3 linked regions of the Homo sapiens genome follow. The protein of the gene in region 2 interacts with the protein of the main gene of each other region in a biochemical or structural test. Each region holds a gene or a part of one and is shown on either strand. Other genes may lie near its edges.

Region 1 (7,484 bases), on a different chromosome or scaffold from region 2:
GCTCACCCCAGCCATCACTTCTCTGAACACCACAGTAACAATACTTGTCCTGATTTATATGTGTTGGTTTTATTTTCCCAATGAGATGTAAGCTCTGAAGGGCAGGAACATGTTTTATGTATGTCTTTATCATCTCAGTTCCAAAACGGAGTATGACTGCTCAAATTGTCGATGGATTGAAAGACGGCAAAGAGGTCTAAACTAGGAGCTGGGACTCTAGGGTCTGAGTCTCATCTCTGGCACAATGACTCTGCAACTCTATTTAAGTCTCTTAACTGTCATTGGCCTCATGTGAGATGGAGACAAGGAGGTTTTGTCCCACCAACCTCTCTGCCTGGCTTAAACAACAGGATGGACAAGAAAAGGCTTTGCAAACCATAAAGCAAGATGCAAAATGAAAGGAATTAATATTGTTCTATTTTTTCATCATACAGAGGAGGTTACATGCAGAGTTGGAATACTCTCAGTGGAAAACAAGTAACAATAGAATTTAGGTACTTCAAATAAAAGTTTTGACTTCAACCAAAGAGATTCAAGTATGATTTAGAAAATATTAAGACCTCGTTTTGCTTTAGCAGTCTGTTAGTCCACACAGGTTTCACTCCAGTTTGGACTGATCTTCTGAATTTATTTTTTAAATCTTTGATTTGATTTACAAATGAATAAAATACAATGATTTGGGCTTCTAAACCCATAATATGTTATACTGTGGTTAATCAAGAATGTCCTATTCTCCATTAGTAGAACATTAACTTCTCTGGGGCTAGCTCTGTTAGACAACTACTACTAACAGCCTCCAGTGCTGGAGGACCAACTGGTAAGGGATCTGGGTAGAAGACACCTATGTTTTTGAGTATCAGTGACCTAGGTGGTTCGTAAGTTCCCCTCGGCCATGGATGACCAAGGACCATCAAACTATTGAGAACCCCTGTGTTACCTCCTCCTCCCTCTGAGTCTCAGCTAGGACTTATACTGACCTCGGTGAAGTCGGCTGTTGTCCATTGCAGGGAGGGTGTTGCGTCTGGGGATGGTGGCAGCGACAGATCTGCTATTTTCACTGATTGGCGGTCTCTGCTGAGGACTGCCCCATCGAGGTGTTTCTGCCTGACTTGGCTTGGGGGGGCGGGGTGGGGGAGCTATGGCTGAGTCCCCAGGAGTGGCCACTGTCATGGCATTGTGGTTTTTGTCCAGAGTGAATGTCCTAGGGATCTGGTAGGCTGAGAGTGGGGTGGCCGGAACATCCATATTGTCTACCAGGAGGTCCCCGAACTCCCTGCACAGGGTGTTGCTGGGCGTCTTGAAGGTGTACACATCCTCATTATCTGTCTCGGAGCCTGTGAGGCTGCCCTTGGTGTGGCCATGGGAGGCCAGGCTGCGGGGGAGGTCGTAGGTACTGTCTCTGAATTCTGTATTGTGCCGGCTCGGCTTGGGAAGGCTATAGAAGCCATGGACTTGACCACTGATCCCGTTGACACAGTGTCCATTGCCCTGGGCAAGTTTTTGTACAGCTGTGTCACTCCTCATGAGAAAAGAGGCTCTGGTGCCCTGAGAGAAGCTGGCACTCCTAAAAGAGAAAGAAGGGAAAGGGCAGGAGGGTGAGACAATTACTAGCTGTGTGACCTTGAGGCAAAGCACTTTCTCTTTCTATACTTTGGTTTAGGCATCTGTAAAATGGTGACTAAAAGCATATTTTGAAGGTTGTTCAGACTCTAGTATATGAATGTTTAAACAATGTTAGACTTCATCCGTCCCCCATCTCCAAATGGCAGTTAATAGCAGGGGTTATAACCCCCACTCCCTGAACAAGTATCAATAAGCCAGATGGATTGCCTATTTGTTCACTGTTTTAAGTACCGCAGAATATGCACATTCGAACACAAATGTTGTGAGACAGTGGAAAGAACCTTTAAGTTGATGACAGGAAACAGCAAACAAGTCATTTTACCTCTCTGAGTCTATTCTGCCACTGTGAAACTAGCCCATGGGTATTGATGTTGTAAGTTGAAAAGAATTATTTGGGTCAGGTGCAGTGTGCAGTGGCTCATGACTGTAATCCCTGCACTTTGGGAGGCTGAGGTGGGAGGTTCACTTGAGGCCAGGAGTTCAAGACCAGCCTGGGAACACAATAAGACTCCATTGCCACCAAAAAAAAAAAAAAAAGAACTAGCTGGGCAGGGTGCTGCACACCTGTAGTCCTAGCTTCTGGTGAGGCTAAGGGAGGAGGATCGCTTGAACCCAGAAGTTCGAAGTTAGAGTGAGCTATGATCGCACCACTGCATTCCAGTCTAGTAAACAGAATGAGACCCTGTTTCAAAAAAACACACGCCCCAACACAAACAAACAACAAACTATTCAAACGTAAGCTCTAGATTTATTTTCTACCATGATTTATGGTTGGTTAAGAGGCATTTTGAGGGGAAAGATCTCTTTCCAGAGACCTAGAAATCTATATGAAGAATGGTTTCCTGTTTGGGAACTATATATAGAAAAAGTTTTGATTAGTACATTTTTAAATTTAGGTTTTGGGCAATAAGGCAAGCAGTAAAAAGAGAAGAGAAACAAGAGGGGAGACTTGTGTTAGGTTCCAGTACTGCTACTGATACGTGCTGTGTGTATCACCAAGCCTCCTCTCTCAGGTGGGACCTAGTACGTCACAATGATTTCTAAGGGCCCATCTGGCCCCGATGCTCTACAAGCCCTTCGTTTCACAAGAGTGGTTTTCAAACTAGATTCCAGGTTCTCTGTAAGTGCTTTGGGAAATTGGAGGGTGAGGTTCTGAGCAAGCAGGGATTTAGGTCTGCTTCTTTAGCTTGTGTATGATTCTTCATAGGATTTCACTTGGGGAAAAAAAGAATCAATCCTTTGTAGCAGGGATTCTAAGCCTTTTGGAGGCTATAGGAGTTTTTAAGATTCTGGTCAAAAGCTCTTGGAGTGTCTCATCAGAAAAGGCAAATCTCGTATACATATAAACTTGTTGGGGCTGTAATACATAATAGCCCTCTGAGGCCAATCCCTGGACCTTTTGCCTTATAGAAGCTCTCTCAGCTCCTGAGGAGTTTGTTATTTACAGATGTGGCCACCAGATGGTGTTAGAAAATAGGGGCCAGAGCTTAGAAAGAGGAAACAGGTGTGTAAAGCCAGGCTTCCTCTCATGTAAACTGTACCCACCATGATGGCTAGGAATTCCAGGTCAGTCTCCAAACCTTCACTGATGCTCCTCCTTGGGCCTCTGCACTCCTCCTCCCTTTCTGTTCCATTCCAGACACATAACCAAGCCAACAGCCATGGGCTTGGATGATTGAACATCTAGGCTTTAGATAATGTAGTGCTTAGGGAAGAGGACGGGGGTGGCGGGGGGAGCGAATGGTAGACATAAGGTGTTAATGTTGTATGCATTTTTTTGGTGCCTTTCATTTTGCTTTTTTTGGAATTTCCAACTCTCTGTTGGATGCTCCCATCTGGATTTGTTCATTTTACATTTACTGATGTCCTAATTTCCATCTGGGCCAGGCAAAAGGGATACAGAGATGCCACCTGCCCAGTGAGGGGTGGTCTGGGAATGTCACAGTAGGGCAGGAGATGACATGGATGCAAATCATTACAGTCAAGTAGGGGTGAGTATGTAGCTGCTGACAGTTGGTATCAGCCCTTGCTGGGGGTGGTGGTAGACAATGTCAGGGAAGCCTCCTTCAGAGATGTTTTATCTTGAGTGAGTCTGGAAGGATGAGCCACAACTGGCCAGGCAGAAGGCAGGAGAAGGGAAATGGTGTTCTAGTTGAAGGCTCAAAGATGTAGAACACAACCTGGCAAGTTCTAGAAACTCGAAGCTGCTCAGGCTGCAGCAAGCACATTAGAAGGCAGGGCTGAGAGAAGACACTGGAGGCCAGGCCAGGACTAAAGGGAACGGGGAGCCTCTGAAGGATTTCAAGGTGGGGATGGGGTTGCAAGAGCATCACAGGCACCCTGCAATAACCTTCAACATACTCAAGAATGAACTCATCATCTTCCTCTGGAACTCTTCTCCTCCTGCCTCTCTTATTTTGGGAATGGCAACAGTTACTCAAGCCAGAAACCTGGGAGTCACCCACATTATGATTTCTGCCCAGGGCCTCTCTGATCCTTCCATCCTACTAATATTTACTTTCCTAACTTCCCAGTGTAAACATTTTCAACACCGCCTCAATGCTTCAGGATTAAGCCCAAACTCCTAGGTTTATCCCAACTCATCTCACCAATCTTTTCTCTTTAGTTCCCTTTTCCACTCTAGGATCCAAACCAAACTTTGCAGTGTTCCCTGTGTGCCCCAGTTAGTCAAGCATTGGGCTTTGCTGCATTGTTGGGCTGTGTCTGGAAGGCTTCTTACCTCAATCTGGCAAGTTCCTACTCCATTTATCCTTCAAACTCATCTCAGAAGACACATTTTTTAAGGCCATTCTTACATCCTCTACCTCTAAGCATTGCTTAACTTAATCACTTGCTTAACTTTGTTCTTGGAGCAGGTAGCAAGTGTTACCTATATTAGGCACCATTACTACTTATCTCTGCCAACAGACTGTGATTTCCTTGAGGAAAGAAACTGTGTCTTACTCATTTTTCTCTCCTTAGCACCTAGGTTAATGCTTGTTGCATTATAAATAATGAATAAACGTTTGTTGTAAGTAAGCAAATGAATAAACAAACGTATGTTGCTGCTATCCCTTTTCCTGGGCTTGGCCCAAACCTTCTGATCAGCAGATCAAAGCCCTTCCTCTGTAGAACCCACTAGCTTACGTTCCAACTTCCCTCTACCCCGGCATCCTCCTGTCTCGCTCACAGAACTACTCACTCATCCCTAAACATGTCCTGTGTAGTCTAAACTTCAGCCCTGGTCTTGCATTACTCACCTCCCTGTGGAACGCTTCCTTGATACATCAACACCTTACACAAAGTCCACAAGAAGCCTTTTCACTCTACAAAGGTATTACAGGTCCCTAATTCTCCTTTTTATGGTAATCATTCCTTCCTCTGTGCTACCACAGCACTCTGTGCTTCCATCGCAACACTCACCTTATTCTGCCTTATGTCAGTTATTCAGGTCTGTGTCTTTCCACTTCTACCAGACCATGTGCTCCTAGAAGGCAGAGGGCCATATCCTGTACCCTGGCATAGTGCCAGGCATATGATAGATAATAGTGACACATGTTGAGGGAGACTGATTATCACCTCAGTAACCAAGTAAGAGGAGTTGAACAAGGGACTCTTGCCCAAAGTTACATACTCAGAGGGCAGGGAATTTGTTCTAGCAGCCAGGTCTCTGGGTGCCCCCACTGCGCAAACCATGCTAAAATGTGGTCCCTTTGGGCAATAATCTAGATGGGGAATTCCAAATACTCAGCAGTCTTATGGCCTTTAGTATTTTCATGTAAACCTTAACTGAGGCCTGTGTCACTGTGATGACCTGAGTTGCTTTTGTGGGATGGATAATCCACCTGGAAGTGGTGGATTTGGAGAGAGGCTTCTCTTCCAGGGCTGGGCTTACAGAAGCCTTATAAAATAGGCAAGATACTATGCCATACATATCACATGTGATCTCATTTTAAATCCTCCTAATAGTTCTGAGACACACCTCTTACTTTCACATTATCAGATGAGGAAAACAGTAAATGGCAGAGTTGGAGCAGGAAGATACTCAAACACAAGCACGTATGGGAGCTCCCCAGAATCAAAAAGAAGTTTGAGAGAAGATATTCCCTCAAGCCAGCAGTGCCAAGTGCCTTCCCTTTCCATTCCTGGCCAATGGCTCTTCCAGAGGCTATAGAGGCTATTGCCACCATACAGTCTCTCCCTTGGTGCGCGCGCGCGCGTGTGTGGTGTGTGTGTGTGTGTGTGTGTGTGTGTGTGTGTCGGAGTCTCATTCTGTCTCCCAGGCTGGAGTGCAGTGATGCAATCTTGGCTCACTGCAACCTCCGCCTCCTGGGTTCAAAGCGATTCTCCTGCCTCAGCACCCTGAGTAGCTGTGATTACAGGAGCGTACCACTGCACCTGGCTAATTTTTGTATATTTAGTAGAGACGGGGTTTCATCATATCGGCCATGCTGGTCTCGAACTCCTGACCTCGTGGTCTGCCCGCCTCAGCCTCCCAAAGTGCTGGGATTACAGGCGTGAGCCACTGTGCCCGGCCTTCCCTTGGCTTTTAAAAATGGTTTTCTAGTTTTTCTAGCCACTTCATTTTGTACTTGTTCTTCCACACATTTTCATATAATTTTATATACCATACTATATGATGATTTTGCTTTTTTCTATCCCACTGGACTCCAAGAACCCTAATGATGAAGGACTCACTTTGATTTTCAATGAGTATGTTCCCATTTAAGGGTGACTTAATATAAAATGCTTGTAAGTAGATTAAACACCATTTAGAGTTCTGTAACTGTCACTGGCCATGTTTAAGAGGTCATTTGAACTATCCTCTTGCATTTGACCCATTCCAAATGGATCCTTCCTGTGAAAGAAGAAAACTCTGTGTCACAAATCTTTATGAGATGAGGCAATCTTTGTATCTCAAACCCTTCTGGCTGCAGTTCTGAGCCAATTTTGGCAGGACTCTGGTTACAGAGCAAAGCTGTATATGTGAAACTAAAAGTTGTATATTTTGCCTTTGGTCAGTCAATCAAAGCCTCTGGTGAATGAGTCAGGGAAGACTTAGAAAAGATTAATGATGGGTAAGCTCTCCACTGACATTTCTAATTTTACCATTTACCCACCATCTTTCTATAGACTACTGCTGCAGGGTCAGTGATTCTGGAATCTCACCAATGAAATTTCACTCCTAGTAACCCTCACCAGAATTATGGCTTTTCAGGGCATGTGACTCACATCAATGTATCATCTGTTACAGGTTTAACAGCCTTCTTGAAATAAGAAGACAGACACTGGCTAGAATCTGGAATGAGGCCCCAAAGGCTGGAGGACAAAAATAAGTCCAGTGAAACCAACTTGTCTTCAAAGAGAAAAAGAACTCTATTTGTCTTGACTCTGCCAGTTCAAAACTCTTTCCGTTGGCAATAGATATTATTCTGAATAGTTACTTATTTTAGCTCAGTGGAAGACCTGCATTTTGAGAAATGAAGTTATTTTAGCAAGAATACATATTATCTAGTACTTGAAGGAAGACTAGTGGCTATTATTGCAGTAAAAGTGATGATAAATACATAATTCACAGTTTTATTTCTAAGGTGCTTAATTTACTGTATCTTTACAATCAGGTTCCCACATAAATGAAAAAAGAGATAGATAGAAGGCTGGTATTAGTAGCCTCAGTAATCCAATCAGACACAGTTATGTCTAGTCTATGCGAGGCAGGATGAATGGGCTGATTCACTTTATACCCCCTACTCAAAAATAATCTTACAGGATTACTTTGGAGATCATATGAGGTACCTAATGTAAAAGTGCTTTGTAAACTTTAAAGCATCATTTCTTTCTTCCAGAGCACCTAGTATATA
Region 2 (7,756 bases):
AGCACTTTGGGAGGCCAAGGCAGGTGGATCACTTGAGGTCAGGAGTTTGAGACCAGCCTGGCCAACATGGTGAAACCCATCCTAATAAAAATACAAAAAGAATTAGCCAGATGTGGTATTGTGTACCTGTAGTGCCAGCTACTTGGGAGGCTGAGGAAGGGAGATCATTTGAGCCTGGGAGGTTGAGACTGCAGTGAGCTGTGATCATGCCACTGCACTCTAGCCTGGGCAACAGAGCGAGACCCTGTCTCAAAAAAAAGGAAAGAAATGAAATGAAAAGAAAGGCCAGGCGCAGTGGCTCACACCTGTACCTGTAATCCCAGCATGATGGGAGGCCAAGGTGGGCAGATCTCTTGAGACCAGGAGTTCAAGACTAGCCTGGGTAACATGGTGAACCTCGTCTCGATACAATACAATAGTAAAGGCAAAGTGACATGAGAATCACAAGGAAATATCAGACAAACCCAAACTGAGGGACATTCTACAAAATAACTGACCTATAATCTTCAAAAGTCTACGGTCATGAAAGACCAGAATACTACTACTAATAATAAGAAGAATAAATAACTATTTCAGGCCAGGCATGGTGGCTCATGCCTGTAATCCCAGCACTTTGGGAGGCCAAGGTGGGCGGATCATTTGAGACCAGCCTGGGCAACACGGTGAAACCCCATCTCTACCAAAAATACTAAAATTAGCTGGGCATGGTGACACATGCTTGTGGTCCCAGCTACTCAGAAGGTTGAGGTGAGAGGATCATTTGAGCCTGAGAGGCAGAGGTTGCAGTGAGCCATGACCGCACCACTGCAGTCCAGCCTGGGCGACACAGCATGACACTGCCTCAAAAAAAAAAAAAAAGAAAGAAAGAAAGAAAAAAAGAAGTGCCAGACCTTGAAAATCACAAAAAGCTAATAACTGGTTTAAGATTTAATCTGGAGCCAGCCGAAGTGGCTCATGACTGTAATCCTAGCACTCCGAAAGGCCGAGGTGAGAGGATCACTTGAGCCTAGAAATTTGAGACCAGACTGGGCAACATTAGCTAGAACCCTTCTCTACAAACATTCTAAAAATTAGCCAAGCCAGGCACGGTGGCTCACACCTGTAATCCCAGCACTTTGGGAGGCCAAAGTGGGCAGATCACTTGAGGTCAGGAGTTTGAAACCTGCGTGGCCAACATGGTGAAACCCCATCTTTACTAAATATATAAAAATTAGCCAGGCGTGGTGACGTGTGCCGGTAATCCCAGCTACTTGTAAGGCTGAGGCAGGAGAATCGCTTGACCTGGGAAGTAGAGGTCAAGGTGAGCCGAGATTGTGCCATTGCATTCCAGCCTGGGCACAGAGGGAGACTCCATCTCAAAAAAAAAAAAAAAAATGCTGGGCGCAGTGGCTCACACCTGTAATCTCAGCACTTTGGGAGGCCGACACGGGCGGATCACGAGGTCGGGAGATAGAGACCATCCTGGCTAACACGGTGAAACCCCCTCTCTAATAAAAATACAAAAAATTAGCCAGGCATGGTGGCACACGCATGTAGTTCCACCTACTCAGGAGGCTGAGGCAGGAGACCCGGGAGGCAGAGGTTGCAGTGAACTGAGATTGCACCATTGCACTCCAGCCTGGGCAACAGAGCAAGACTCCGTTTCAAAAACAAAAAAAAAAAATTAGCTAGGCGTGGTTGTGTGTGCTAGGCATGGTGGCAGGATCTGTTGAGCCTAAGAGTTCGAGCCTGCAGTGACCTATGATCTTGCCACTACACTCCACTCCAGCCTGGGCAACAGAGCAAGACCCTGTGCTAGAAAAATAATTCTGCCGGGCACAGTGGCTCACGCCTGTACTCCTAGCACTTTGGGAGGCCGAGGCAGGTGGATCATGAGGTCAGGAGATGGAGACCATCCTGGCTAACACGGTGAAACCCCGTCTCTACTAAAAATACAAAAAATTAGCCAGGCATGGTGGCGGGTGTCTGCAGTCCCAGCTACTCAGGAGGCTGAGGCAGGAGAATGGCGTGAACCTGGGAGGCGGAGCTTGCAGTGAGCTGAGATCGCGCCACTGCACTCCAGCCTGGGTGACAGAGCGTAAGCTTCCACATCGTTTTCCCTCTGTCCCTTTTTTTGGGGGGGTGGGGGTGGGGGCAGGGTCTCTCACTCTGTCACCCAGGCTGGAGTGCAGTGGCACCATCAGAGCTCACTGCAACCTCAACATCCTGGGCTCAACTGATCCTCCTGCCTCAGCCTCCCAAGTAGCTGGGATTACGGACGCATGCCACCACACCCAGCTCATTTTTGTATTTTTGGTAGAGATGGGATCTCACTATGTTGCCCAGGCTGGTCTCCAGCTGCTGGGGTCAAGCAATCAGCCTGCCTCAGCCTCCCAAAGTGCTGGAATCACAGAGGTGAGCCACCACGACCAGCCAGCATCATTTTCCAGTTAAATGTTAATAGTATCTACTTCATATGGCTGCTGTGAGGATTACAGGAGGTAGTGTACATAAAAGTGCCTGGCAAGCCAGGTGCCGTAATCTCAGCACTCTGGGAGGCCAATGTGGGTGGATCACCTGAGGTCAAGAGTTTGAGACCAGCCTGGCCAACATGGTGAAACCTCGTCTCTACTAAAAATACAAAAATTAGCCGGGCGTGGTGGCTGGCGCCTGTAATCCTAGCTACTTGGGAGGCTGAGGTGGGAGAATGACTTGAACCCAGGAGGTAGGGGTTGCAGTGAGCTTGCACTCCTGCCTGGGTGATAGAGCAAGACTCCGTCTCAAAAAAACAAACAAACAAACAAACAAAAAAAAACCAAAAGTGCCTGGCACAGAAGAGATGGTAAGTCTACATTAGTTGAATATGCGTCTATGAACCAGAACAAATCCCAGTCCAGTCCTCCAAGGAAATGCCAACCTCAGTCACTAGAGGGGAATCTCAGTCACACTCTAACTGAGCTTCCAGCAGCAGGAGGTGGCAGCTTGCAGCTCTGATACACCAGCCTTTCCTATGCTGGGAAACTCACTCCCACTCAGCAAACCTGGCTCCATGCTGAACTCCATAGTGTTTTCTCTGAGTCACTATATTCTCCCGCAGTTGCAAAATGATCTGGCAAAAGTCCCTCTAGGGTTTTTACTGCTTACTGAGTAACATCCAAACTCCTTGCCAGAATCCAGAGCCTTCCTAATCTGGCCCCAACCTACCTCTCCAGGCTGAAACCTCATCATTTTTTTACTGCAGCCATGCTGGACAAGTTATGCTTCTGCCTTTATGCCTCAGCTCACCCCGATCCTTCTCCTTCATGCCTTTCTTCAGTCCCTACCTTCTGCAACCCTACTTTTTCTCTTCTTCTTTTTGTTTTTTGTTTTTGAGACGGAGTGTTGCTCTGTCGCCCAGGCTGGAGTGAAGTGGTGCAATCTCAGCTCACTGCAACCTCCTCCTCTCGGGTTCAAGCGATTCTCCTGCCTCAGTCTCCCAAGTAGCTTGGATTACAGGCACGTGCCACCATGCCCAGCTAATTTTTGTATTTTTAGTAGAGACGGGGTTTCACCATGTTGGTCAGGCTGGTCTCAAACTCAGGTGATCTGCCCACCTCGGCCTCCCAAAGTGCTGGGATTACAGGCGTGAGCCACCGTGCCCAGCCCCCCAATTTTTTTTTTTAATTAGCAGGGCGTGGTGGCGCGCACTCGTAGTCCCAGCTCTTTGGGAGGCTGAGGTGGGAGGATCACTTGACCCCAGGGAGGTTGAGGCTGCAGTGAGCAATTATTGCACCACTACACTCCAGCCTGGACGACAGAGAGAGACCCTGTCTCTATAATAAAATAAAAACAGTCTAGGACTCTGAGAGGCATGGAATTAGAAAGAGTCTCTGTGTCAGAAGACACCATTTTGAGTCTCAGCTGTCACTACTAGTGACCTTACCCAAGTTAGTAAACCTAACTCTCAGATTCTCCATCTGTAAAATTTGATCCATTTATTAGAACATTATTTTTAACCTAGGGTGATCCCGGGCCCAGGTTCTGGTGGGCTGCCGCATACATTGGCTGGGTGGCTCTGGTAGGTCACGCCCTGGCCGCTTCGCCATCGAGGGGAGGGTGAGGACAGTCTCCGAGGCGGCGCTGCCGAACCTCCCGGTGACCTGGAGGCCGCGGAGCCCGCAGGGACCCATGGCCCCCGAACCTGGGGCAAGAAGGGCGGGCGCGCGCGGGGCGGGTCACGTGACAGCTCCAGGCCCACGCGGGGCCGGGGCAAGGGCGGGGCCTGGCGCGCGCGGCCCTGCGGGTGACAGGCAGGCGGGAAGGGGCGGGGCCTCGGGCGGGGCCGCCGTGGGGAGGAGGGCGGTGGGAGGGGAGGAGTGGAGATGGCGGCGGCGGCGGCTCAGGGGGGCGGGGGCGGGGAGCCCCGTAGAACCGAGGGGGTCGGCCCGGGGGTCCCGGGGGAGGTGGAGATGGTGAAGGGGCAGCCGTTCGACGTGGGCCCGCGCTACACGCAGTTGCAGTACATCGGCGAGGGCGCGTACGGCATGGTCAGGTGAGGGGGCGTTCCGGGGGAGGGGGTGCCCTCAGGGGAGGGGGCTTCGCGGGAGAGGAGGAGGAGGCGCCGAGCGCTTTCCGGGACGTGGAGACGCGGAGCGTCCCGAGGAGGCAGGAGACTCGGGATGATCGGGAGCGTCCCAGGGAGGGGGCCCCTGAGTGCTTTCTGGGGGAGGGGGCGCTGCCTACGTCCTCAGGGGAGCAGGCTTGGAGGCTTTGAGTCCACCCTTCTGTAATGATGGGAGGGGCATCCGAGTGCATGTGGGGGCCCGCGGGGACCCTAGTGACACGGGGCGAGGCCCAGAGGATGAGTACTCTCGGGGAGGCGACATCCTTAGTGAAGAGGCAGTGGAGGGCCCGTTTTGGGGGAAAGGGTGTCTTGGATTCCCCCTGTGAGGCAGTGCCAGGGAGCCTGGGGGAGAAGAGCCGAGATCAGGGTGGGGCAGGGCTTTGGCCCCACCACCCCAGGGGCCCAGAGAGAGATGAGGCGGCCAGGAGTGCCACCTGCATGTTTTGGGAGGGGTCTGTGAGTGCCCCCGGCCCCACCGTGTGCTCTGGGCCTCTATCCCTCTGGGACAGCCCCGCTGCCCGGATCCCTCACCCTGGGACCCTCCCCTGCCCTGTCCATTCTCTCCTGCCCCTCCCCTGGCTGCCACCTTCCCAGTATTTGCCCCATGGTGTGTCCCCAGCATCTGCACCCCCGGACCTGTCTTGGGTTAAGGAGCCTTTCCTGGGAATGGGGGCGAAGGGTTCAGGGCCAGTAGAATGGAAGGGGATTGAGGAGAGGGGAAGTCAGTGAGCGGTCAGTCTCTTCCTCTGTTTGTAAAGTCACCGAAGGGCCGCCTGGCTGGTCCCCAGCTTTCTCTCTGGAGATCCCAGGCCTCCACAGCAGGAAGGAACCAGCATTGTTTATGATTTGACCAGAGCCAGCTCCTGCTCTCTCCCCTCCCTGCCAAGGCCTGGGTGGGGCCACCAGGCCCGGACTCCCCCTTTGTAAGGCCACAGCAGCAGCCTCTCTCCGGTCCCCTCAGCTCGGCCTATGACCACGTGCGCAAGACTCGCGTGGCCATCAAGAAGATCAGCCCCTTCGAACATCAGACCTACTGCCAGCGCACGCTCCGGGAGATCCAGATCCTGCTGCGCTTCCGCCATGAGAATGTCATCGGCATCCGAGACATTCTGCGGGCGTCCACCCTGGAAGCCATGAGAGATGTGTATCCTTCACCTTGGCCAGTCGGCTGGTCAGGCACGGCCTCGCAGCTGGGCTGGGGACCCGTTGCTTGGTTTCTGTTTCCATCTTACCCACCACCCTCCAAAACAAACCCAGTAAAATAAACTTTCCTGCAGAGGGGAAGCCACAGTGTAACAGGACTTGGAGACCTCTGATGAACCCAGGCCTGCAGCGGCCCAGGCAGTATGGCCTCGAGCAAGTGGGTTCTCTGCTCTGTGCCCCAGGGGGAAGGGCTAGGCAGGATGGTCTCTATGGGAGTGGTGTCTTCTGACGTCGGCAGTTCTGAGACATGACCTGGCCTCTGCCCACAGTCACTTCTTGCTAAGGAATGGATGATTCTTTCCTCTCTTTCCTCCTTGCCCAGACCGGAAGGGAGACAGGGAGAAAGAAAACTGTCAGCTGGGCGTGGTGGCTCACGCCTGTAATCCCAGCACTTTGGGAGGCTGAGGTGGGAGATTACCTGAGGTCAGTAGTTGGAGACCAGCCTGGCCAACATGGTTAAACCCCATCTCTACTAAAAATACAAAAAAATTAGCGGGGCATGGTGGTGCAAGCCTGTAATCCCAGCTACTTGGGAGGCAGAGGTAGGAGAATCGCTTGAACCCAGGAGCTGGAGGTTGCAGTGAGCCAAGATCGTGCCACTGCACTCCAGCCTGGGTGACAGAGCGAGACTCTGTCTCAAAACTAAACAAAAACAAAAAACTGCCTTTCTTGAGGGCCTGCTGTGTGTCAGGTACTATACATGCCCAATGCTTTTTTTTTTCTATTACACCTCCCAACTACCCTATGAGATGGGCTTTTCAGCTTCATTTCAAAGATGAGGGGTGGAGTGCAATGGCTCACATCTGTAGTCCCAACACTTTGGGAGGCTAAGACCAGAGGATCACTGGAGGCCAGGAGTTCAAGACCAGCCTGGGCAGCATAGTGAGACCCCACCTCTACAAAAAATTTAAAAATTATCCAGGTTTGGTGGTACACGACTATAGTCCCAGCTACTTGGGAGGCTGAGGCAGGAGGATGGCTTGAGCTTAGGAGTTCGAGGCTGCAGTGAGCTATGATTGTGCTACTGCACTCTAGCCTGGGGGACAGAGCGTGACCCTGTCAAAAAAAAAAAAAAAAAAAAAGATGAGGAAGCTAAGGCTCAGAAAACCTAAAATCAAGTGTTTCTGTTGCTGTCTCCTCCTCTCCTCCCCCAGATGGGAACTTGTCCTTCTTCTTAGGACTTCTCACTCAGAGCCACACCCTAATCACCTGTGGACTTGCACCTTGCCCAGGGAGGGACAGCCTAGCCTTGGCTGTCCTCCCCCAATACTGCTTTCCTAGTTTGCTGTCCACTTCCTGTCTGGCTCTCCTTAGCAACTTATGACACCTGTCACTTCTTCCCTGCCCCACCCACCCACTCTCAGTCCCAGCCCTCCACCCAAGAGTGGGGATTTGTACTGAGGTGTCTGCAACCCCCACCACAAACTGTGGACAGGAAATCTCCGTGCTCACCCCCAGCTCGCTGTGTGATCTGAAGCAAGTCACTGCGTCTCGCTGGGCCTCCCCAGCCCTAAAACAGCAGGGCTGGTCCACATATTCTCTGAAGACCCTTTCAAGGCTGATTCTTGTTTTCTTTGTTTTTTGTTTGTTTGTTTTTAGATGGAGTCTCCCTCTGTTGCCCAGGCTAGAGTGCAGTGGCTCAATCTCAGCTCACGGCAACCTCCACCTCCCAGGTTCAAGCTATTCTCCTGCCTCAGCCTTCCAAGTAGCTGGGACTACAGGCGCCTGCCACCACGCCCGGCTAATTTTTGTATTTTCAGTAGATGCGGGGTTTCGCCCTGTTCACCAGGCTGGCGTCAAACTCCTGACCTCAGGTCATCAACCCACCTTGGCCTCCTGAAGAGCTGGGATTACAGGCATGAGCCACCATGCCTGGTCTCAAGGCAGATTCTAAAAGACAGCCCTGACTTATTTTTCTAGAGACAAGCCAAACAGCATTTGTGGATTTATTTATTTATTTACGCATAAGCT
Region 3 (7,658 bases), on a different chromosome or scaffold from region 2:
CAGCCCACCTCTGCATAAGCCATTCCTTGCCATGAGTCTCTAATGTGTATCTCCACCTGCTTCTGTTTCTCTGGATGAAGCCTGTCCACTACAGGTTTTGACAGAGATTTAAAATCTCCTGTAGAGACTATTCCAGCTACTCGCCTGGCATTTCTGCTCAGCTGGCATTAGGGCCTGTGGCATGAGCACTCTTCCCTTAAACAGCTCCAGAGCTTCCTTCACGGGTTCCAATGGGCCAACAGAAGTGTCTTACTACTTAATGGCCACTTATTTAAAATTATCCCAAGAGTAATTAGAGGCCAGGCGCGGTGGCTCATGCCTGTAATCCCAGCACTTTGGGAGGCCGAGGTGGGTGGATCACTTGAGGTCAGGAGTTTGAGACCAGCCTGGCCAACATGGTGAGGCCCCATCTTTACTAAAAAACAAAAACAAACAAAAAAACGCAAAAATCAGCCAGGTGTGGTGGTGCGCCCCTATAGTCCCAGCTACTGGGGAGGCTGAGGCAGGAGACTGTTTTGGATCCAGAAGGTGGAGGTTGCAGTGAGCCGAGATTGCACCACTGCACTCCAGCCTGGGTGACAGAGCAAGACTCTGTCAAAAAAAAAAAAAAGAAAAAGAAAAGGAGTAATTAGAATATTTTCTTTTCTTTTTTATTGACAACTAAGAAAGCTAAGGAGAAGATGATGAACAAAGACGGATGACAGTAGCCTTATGGTGAAATCATTCTTGAAAGGAAACCTGTGTGGGACATCTCTGGGTACACTCACTCATCATTGGGGTGGAATTTTAAAAGGAGGAACGAGGAGCACCTTTGCAAGGCATCCTTCTCACCACGGCGGTGCAGAGCAGCAGTCAGGCGCTGGTGCAGACTCCCCGGATGGAATCCCGCCTCTTCTTGTGTGCCCTTAGAGTAACTTAACCTCTCTGGGCCTTGTTTCCTCAACAGTAAAAAATGAAGATATGAATAGGATGGTGACATCCAGTGAGGGCATCCTAGGGCCGTCCCGACTGTTATCCGAGGTGACAAACCGCTCTCAAAAGAGAGTCTGGCAACGTGCAAGCAGTCGATAAACACTCCCAGGCGACAGAAAAGGCACAGAGGCAGCTGCTCATCTTAAGCATGTCATATTTTTAAAGAACTTGGAGGAGGATTAAAAGTCAAACAAAATAACTTACAATTAACATTTACAAATTCAGGCAGAAATAGAAACATCACAAGAAAGTTTGGTCTCTTGTTTTTTTTTTTTCTTTTTTCCCCAGCGTTTCGTGGCTACCTTTAATCAGCGCACACAGCTAGGACCACCACTGACCAAACTCAAACCCGACGTTTTAAATCATGGAGGAGCCATGAGCTACCAGGTGTAAAACAAGCGACGTGTCTTACACTTTCTTATCTTTGGGCAGAACTGTGATACTTCTGGAGGATTTTCAAAGAGGATTTGAACAAAATAGCTTTGTTTAACCCGGAGTTAGTAGAAGTGGTTGTTTCAGAACAGTTAACTCCCTGGGAGTTACTCCAGCATTTACAGCAATTTTTAACTGTGTTCTTTTCCCTCAGATTTCTGTTTTTCCCACAAAAAAAAAAAAAAAACAAAACCTCAAAAAACAAAACACACACACGCGCGCACGCACGCGCACACACACACACACACACACACACACACACACACCCCCTCTGCCGCGGTACCCTTCCCCTGGCCTTCCTCCACTGAAGGGCGGCTGGGTTCCAGGCTCTCAGCCGTGACCACAGCCCCGGCCCCAACCGCTAAGGAGGTGCTCATCACTGGAGGTGGCCGCCAGGGAGCTCAGTGCGGGACCTGCTCAATCCATACGGTCCCCTGACTTGAGGGTGACCGTCCTTAAACTGTCCCCCGGAGCTTCGCCAGATAAAATGTCCAAAACACACACTGGAGTTCCCTGACGTTTCCTTCCTCTGAAAAACTCTCTTTCCAGGCGGGGCGTTCTGTGGTCAGACGAGGCAGAGGCCTCCCCGGAACGAAGTCCACGCCCCCTCCCCACCCCAGCACCCAGCGAGCCCACGCGCCCCTCACCCACGCGCAGAGAAACCGAGCACTTGTTGATTCTCACGTTGTTGCAATTGGAAAACGGAACAAGGAACCAGAGCTCGCCTGTTTCCAGCCAGAGTCGCACGGGGGTCCCCAAAGACGCTTGAACCTTTTCCCAAGCCCCACTCCACCTTCCAAAACGGGGGGGCTCAGGTGGACGCGAAAGGACACAAGGCGCTGCCCCCAGCACCCCGGAAAATCTAGTGTGGCGGCAAATGACCGCAGGTCACACACCCCGGCCTCGGGGGCCACGGAAAACGGACGCACCCGGCCCAGGACAGGCAGTGGGGCCCAGGAGGGGACTGCCGGGAAGACCCGGGCGGGCCGGCGGGCGGCTGCGGGCGGCGCACGTGGGCCCAGGTGGGCGCAGCGACGGGCCCGGCCGAAGAGCCCGAGACAGGCCCTGCGAAGGCGGAAGCCCGGACCCGGGCTCTCCTGGCCGCCCCTGGAGCTCAGAGGGAGACTGCGCTTCGCCCCGGGGGCAGGGGCAGGAGCGCGATCGCGCGCGGGGCCCCCGGGGTGTGATTAGCAGGCGCCGCGAGCCGGGAGGACCCCCCAGCCCGCCCTGGCAGCCAGCACCCTCTCCACACCCGCCCAGAGTGGCCGCTTTTGACCGCCGTCCCCTCCCACCCTAGACTCCTCCCCTCAGCCCCACGGCCCGAGGCCGAGCGGTTTCAGCGACCCTGGGACCGCCGGGCCTGGCTGGAGTCCACCCCTGGACACCTGTCAGGGTCGGGCCCCGGCGCTGTAAACCCGCGTCTACACCCGCGCCCAGCCCCCGCGCAATGGGGATCGGGGGCGGCGACTTGGGTTCGGGTCAGGGAGGCCGCCGGCTGCTACCTGCTCGGCCACCTGCTCCGCTGCCTAGGTTCTCCCTGCGCGTCCCCAGCCAAGAAAGGGACCCGGAGTCCGGGCGTCGGGATAGCTCCTGTCCCCGATCTTGCGCCCCCGGCTCCCGCGGGGCTCCGGTCCGGGGTCCCGCCCAGGTCTCCGCGGTCCCCACTCGGAGGGGCACAGAGACAAAGGCGGCAGAGCAGCCCGCCCGTCCCCGAGGGTCACCCACCGGCGCTGCGCTCGTTGCTCCGAGGCCGAGGGGCGCCGCGGGGTCCAAGGCCCTGCTCCGCCTGCCCAGGCCCGGGCAGGCTGGTCTCGGCTTCAAGCGCCCACGCGCGGGGTCCCCGGGCAGCCTGCTTCGCCTTCCGGGGTCGGGAGACAGGGGCCGCCGGGGCCGGAGGCTGCTTCTCTCTGGCGCGCGGCGGCGGTGACTGACGGCGGCGGCTCCGAGGGACGGGCGCGCACCCAGCTCCCCGGCCCCGCCTCCCCGGGCTTCCTGCGAGCCAGGTAAACACAGGCCGATCCCGCCGGGCCCGCCCCACCTGGACGCGGCCGCCGGCGCCGCCCCGGGAGCTCGGAGGACCCCGGGCCCGCTCTGCCCACGCGGAACTTGGGGGGCGCACGGGGCCCACGCGCAGGGTCAGACCTCGGAGGGGCGGCCTGGAGCCTCGCCCGCTGCCGAACTGGGCTCCGAACTGCGGCCCGTCGACCCTTCCCGTTCGGAGGCTTGGCCTCCGAACCCACCCCGACCCCGACCTCGACCTCGCGGGAGGGGTGCCAGGCCGCATCTCCCCGCGTCCTCAGGGGCTGGAAACCCCAGAAACTGCCGATAGACTTGGCGCAGCCCCGGCCCTGCAGGAGGAGAGTCAGCCCGGCCTGGAGGCGAAAGGAGCCGGCAGGTCCTCCCAAGGCACTCCCTCCCTCCCCTGGAGCCCAGGCCAGGCCCATGTCCGGCTGGCAGGTGCTCCTCTGGGAGCTGGGAGCTGGGAGCTGGGAGCTAGGGGCGCACCTTCTCCTGCAGGACCGGCGCAGGAAGCGTGCGCGGAAAAGACAGCAAAACACGCGCAGGTGCGAGGAAGCAGCCTGGTCCTGCAGCCCAGAGACATCGTGGTCTTCGTCGCTGTCTTGTTAAAAAGAAAAAGCCTGCTGTTTAGCCGTGACTCACCTGCACACAGATTTAGTGGTCAGAGATCTTTCTCTGGATTCTCAGCCTCCTGATGGTGGAAGAGGAGGAGGTTGGGGGAGTCCCAGAATGAGGCCCCGCGTTCCTCCTGACCTACACCCCCAGTCAGGGATCTGGATCTGGAGCTTCCAGGGGACCTGGAGCAGCCTGGGACCCACACAGTTTGTTAGGAAGTGAGGGAGAGGGGTGAGCGCTGTCCCGGCCCGCGCTGGGAGGCGGGACTCAGACTTCAGCACGGGGTCGGGGTTTCGGCCTAAAACCAGCCTCCCCCAAAGCCCCGGAGGATTTAGCAACTGTCTTCAAATGCTGGCAACTGGAAGAGAAATACTTCCACAACGACGCAAAAGCATTCAGTCTGGTCGTTTCCTCAGGAGAGATTTTCAAGTGGAGGGGGCAGGAGGGTTCTGAGACTTTGAGGCTGAAGGTGAGGAGGGAAAAGGGTGCCAAAGATAGTGTGTTTCTCCAATTTTTCTGCCCCACAACCTCACTTTAAGTCAAGGATGAGCGGAGTGGGCGTGGGAGGCTGGACAGCTGCCCTAGGAGCACGGGTGGTGACAATGAACCCGGGTGCACCCAGGTCCCAGCTCAAGTCACTCAAAGCTCAGGCTGGGGAAGCTGGAACACTAAAATGGGTCCCATTTTAGATACCTGCTTTAGCATCAGAAACAGCTTTTCCTCCCCAAAATATCTCTTGGCTTTATCTCAGTGACTCCACAGGGCGGGGCCACCTTCCTGCCTGCAGATGTCCCTGTGTGCTGGGCTCTGGAGCGTCCCTCAGGCCACAGTGACAGCTGCACACGCGGCCTTCTGTTTGGTGCTCCTTCTGCTGGTGTTACAGTGGTTTCCTGAAACACTACATATGCCAACAGTCAGCCCTACAAATGTCAGGCTCCACAAGTTCCAGTTAAAAGTCTTTTTAAAGTATTTATGAAATTTCACCGTGCATATTTTGTTGGGATAGAGTGTCCACACAGATGGGCAGCCAGGCAGTTTAGAAAAGTCATGGATTCTTCAAAGAAAACATGTAGATAATACTATTTAATAAAACAGTGGATTCACATTTGGATCAACTGGTCTTATCTTGGGGGCTTTCATGCCCTCCCGGTTAGAAAAAGGACCCCAGGTTGAGGACAGTGGATGGAAGAAACAGAGGCTGGCATTTCACTGTCGAGAGACAAACTTTCACATGAAGATGTCCATGTAGCCCTCAGCAAAGTGACAGAGATTCGTTGTGCTGAATAAAATTGAAAGGCATCTTTTGACAAGTAACCCATCAAAGCCTCATTGTGTCTTTGACATTTCTAAGAAAATCACATTGCAGTTACCCCCATCTTTCACAAGGTACCGGAGAGCAGAAAGTTTGACCTATCCATCATCTCATATGGCAGCAAATAGCAAAATGTTTTGTGCATGAAATACACTCAATAAATTTTTGTTAAGCTGAATTAAACTCCAAATTACCCAAGCTAAAGGAAGTAAATGAATCTAAATAGTTTCCAACAGACCTCAGACTGCACGAACTTTGAGTTTTCTTTAGTTTCCTCATCAACAGATTTGTCTTTGTTATGATGTTTTGCTTAGGAAAGGACTGAACTTTTTTTTTTCTTTCTTTTTTTTTTTTAGATGGAGTCTTGCTCTGTGGCCCAGGCTGGAGTGCAATGGTGCAATCTCAGCTCACTGCAACCTCCGCCTCCCAGGTTCAGGCAATTCTCCTGCCTCAGCCTCCCGAGTAGCTGGGATTATAGGCAACCGCTACCATGCCCAGCTAATTTTTGTATTTTTAGTAGAGATGGGGTTTCACCACGTTGGCCAGGCTGTTCTCGAACCGCTGACCTCAGGTGATCCACCTGCCTGGGTCTCCCAAAGTCCTGGGATTACAGGCCTGAGCCACCACGCCCGGCCAGGACTGAATATGATTTTCAGACCTGGTCTAAACCTCTCTGAGCCTCAGTCTCTTCATCTGCAGTGTGGAGGTAATAGTCATCCTCATATCAGGGCTGAACACTCTCTTTCTGCAGCTCAGGCATCGGTGGATACCCAGGTGTGGAGGTCTCCCTCATTCATCCAGGGGTTGATCACAGTTGTTTCCAAACAAGTGGTACTTCAGAGGAATTCTGGGCTGGCTCTTCAGACGTTACATCTATTCGCTCTGTTGCAATATATATTCACAACCTCGCCAGTGGGGCTTACTTCCCACGTGAGGGTGTATTAGTCAGCTCAGCTGCTATAACAAAATACCACAGACTGGATGGCTTAAAAACAGATGTTATGCCAGCTCTGGAGCCTGGAAGTCCAAGATGCAGGTGCTGGCGGACTTGGCGTTGGGCGAGAGCTTGCTTCTTGATTCATAAACAGCACCTTCTCTATGTGTGTCGGGTGGTGGAGGGAGAGAAAGAGGAAGGGGAGGAGACTGGGCTGTGGCCTCTTTTTCTTATAAAGACACTAATCCCATTGTGAGGCCACCCTCACGGATTCAATCTAAGCCGAACTATCTTTCAAAGACCCCATGTCCAAATACCATTCCCTGGGGGTTGCGGCTTTGACATATGAATTTTGGGGGGATAGATGTGCAGTCCTTAATAGAGGGTTAGATTAAGACATAGGGAAAAAAAGGAATGAATACTCAGCTTCCAATCTAGTTAACAGAGTTCCCTGCGGGGGGTGGTGGAATGAGTGCCAGCCTCCCCAGGAGCTGGGAAGGAGCTGGACTGGGCAGGAATAGAGTGAGGGATAGGAGAGCCTTAGCCAGGTCTGTGGGGTGGGTGGGGGTTGTGTGTGTGCTGGACTTTGTGCTACATTTGATGCTCCTATAACAAGGGGATTAAATGTGACATCTTAATAACCAGCCCCAGGAAGCAGCCCGAGAGGACGGGAGGGTTGCCGGGAAGTCCAGAGCATGCACAGTGTGAATGTGCATGGGAGCCATGGCAGACCCCAGAGGGAGCCAGGAAAGGCTGTGAGGAGACAGCGGCCCTGTTGCAGGGGTGGGGTCAGCAGCCAGCTCTGAGGGAGGGAGACGGGCCCTGGAGGGAGGGGCTCAGAGGCAGGGTGAGTGGGAACCAGGAGGGCTTGGCCCTGGCTTTGGGGACCTCCCACTTCTGACCCAGACCTGCCTCCACGGTGCCCCTCCTGCCTCCACGTTCTTCCTGTACCAGGCTTCCTTTCTCTGGAGTTTGTCCTCAAAGGTGGAAAAACTGTGTTTCTACAGTGAAAGTTCACTGTTAAGGGTTGAACTGTGTCCCCGAAGAGAGAACTCGAAGTCCTGACCACCTAATACCTGGGAAAGTGACTGTGCTTTGAAATAGCCTTTGCTAGTGTCATCAGGTGGAGATGAGGTCCTTGGGGGGGTCCGGTGCGGTGGCCATGTCCTTGTAAGCAGAGGGGACACTCAGAGGGAAGAGGCCACATGGAGACAGAGGCAGAAGTGAGAGTCATACATCCCGGAGCTGAGGGATGCTGGGGGCAGCAGAAGCTGGGAGAGGCACGGAGGGACCCTCCCCTGCAGCCCCTGGCAGGAGCACAGCGCTGGCCACACCTGGATTTCATACTCCTGGCCTCCAGACTGAGAAGCTACA

Evidence for each region.
Region 1: of the proteins of MAPK3 (region 2) and GAB2, one has a biochemical effect on the other in vitro, tested with the Homo sapiens proteins (2 studies listed by BioGRID).
Region 3: of the proteins of MAPK3 (region 2) and MBP, one has a biochemical effect on the other in vitro, tested with the Homo sapiens proteins (5 studies listed by BioGRID).

The regions. Positions count from the first base shown.
Region 1 is NC_000011.10:78,225,488-78,232,971, forward strand, and holds part of GAB2 (GRB2-associated-binding protein 2), read right to left. Parts: exon of another isoform or gene 6,878-7,484; intron 1,565-6,877; coding exon 978-1,564; intron 695-977; exon of another isoform or gene 1-694. UniProt on the Homo sapiens protein: Adapter protein which acts downstream of several membrane receptors including cytokine, antigen, hormone, cell matrix and growth factor receptors to regulate multiple signaling pathways.
Region 2 is NC_000016.10:30,119,794-30,127,549, reverse strand, and holds the start of MAPK3 (mitogen-activated protein kinase 3), read left to right. Parts: upstream 1-4,329; 5' UTR 4,330-4,340; coding exon 4,341-4,510; intron 4,511-5,543; coding exon 5,544-5,726; intron 5,727-7,756.
Region 3 is NC_000018.10:77,129,451-77,137,108, forward strand, and holds the start of MBP (Golli-MBP), read right to left. Parts: upstream 3,334-7,658; 5' UTR 3,130-3,333; exon of another isoform or gene 1-3,129. UniProt on the Homo sapiens protein: The classic group of MBP isoforms (isoform 4-isoform 14) are with PLP the most abundant protein components of the myelin membrane in the CNS. They have a role in both its formation and stabilization.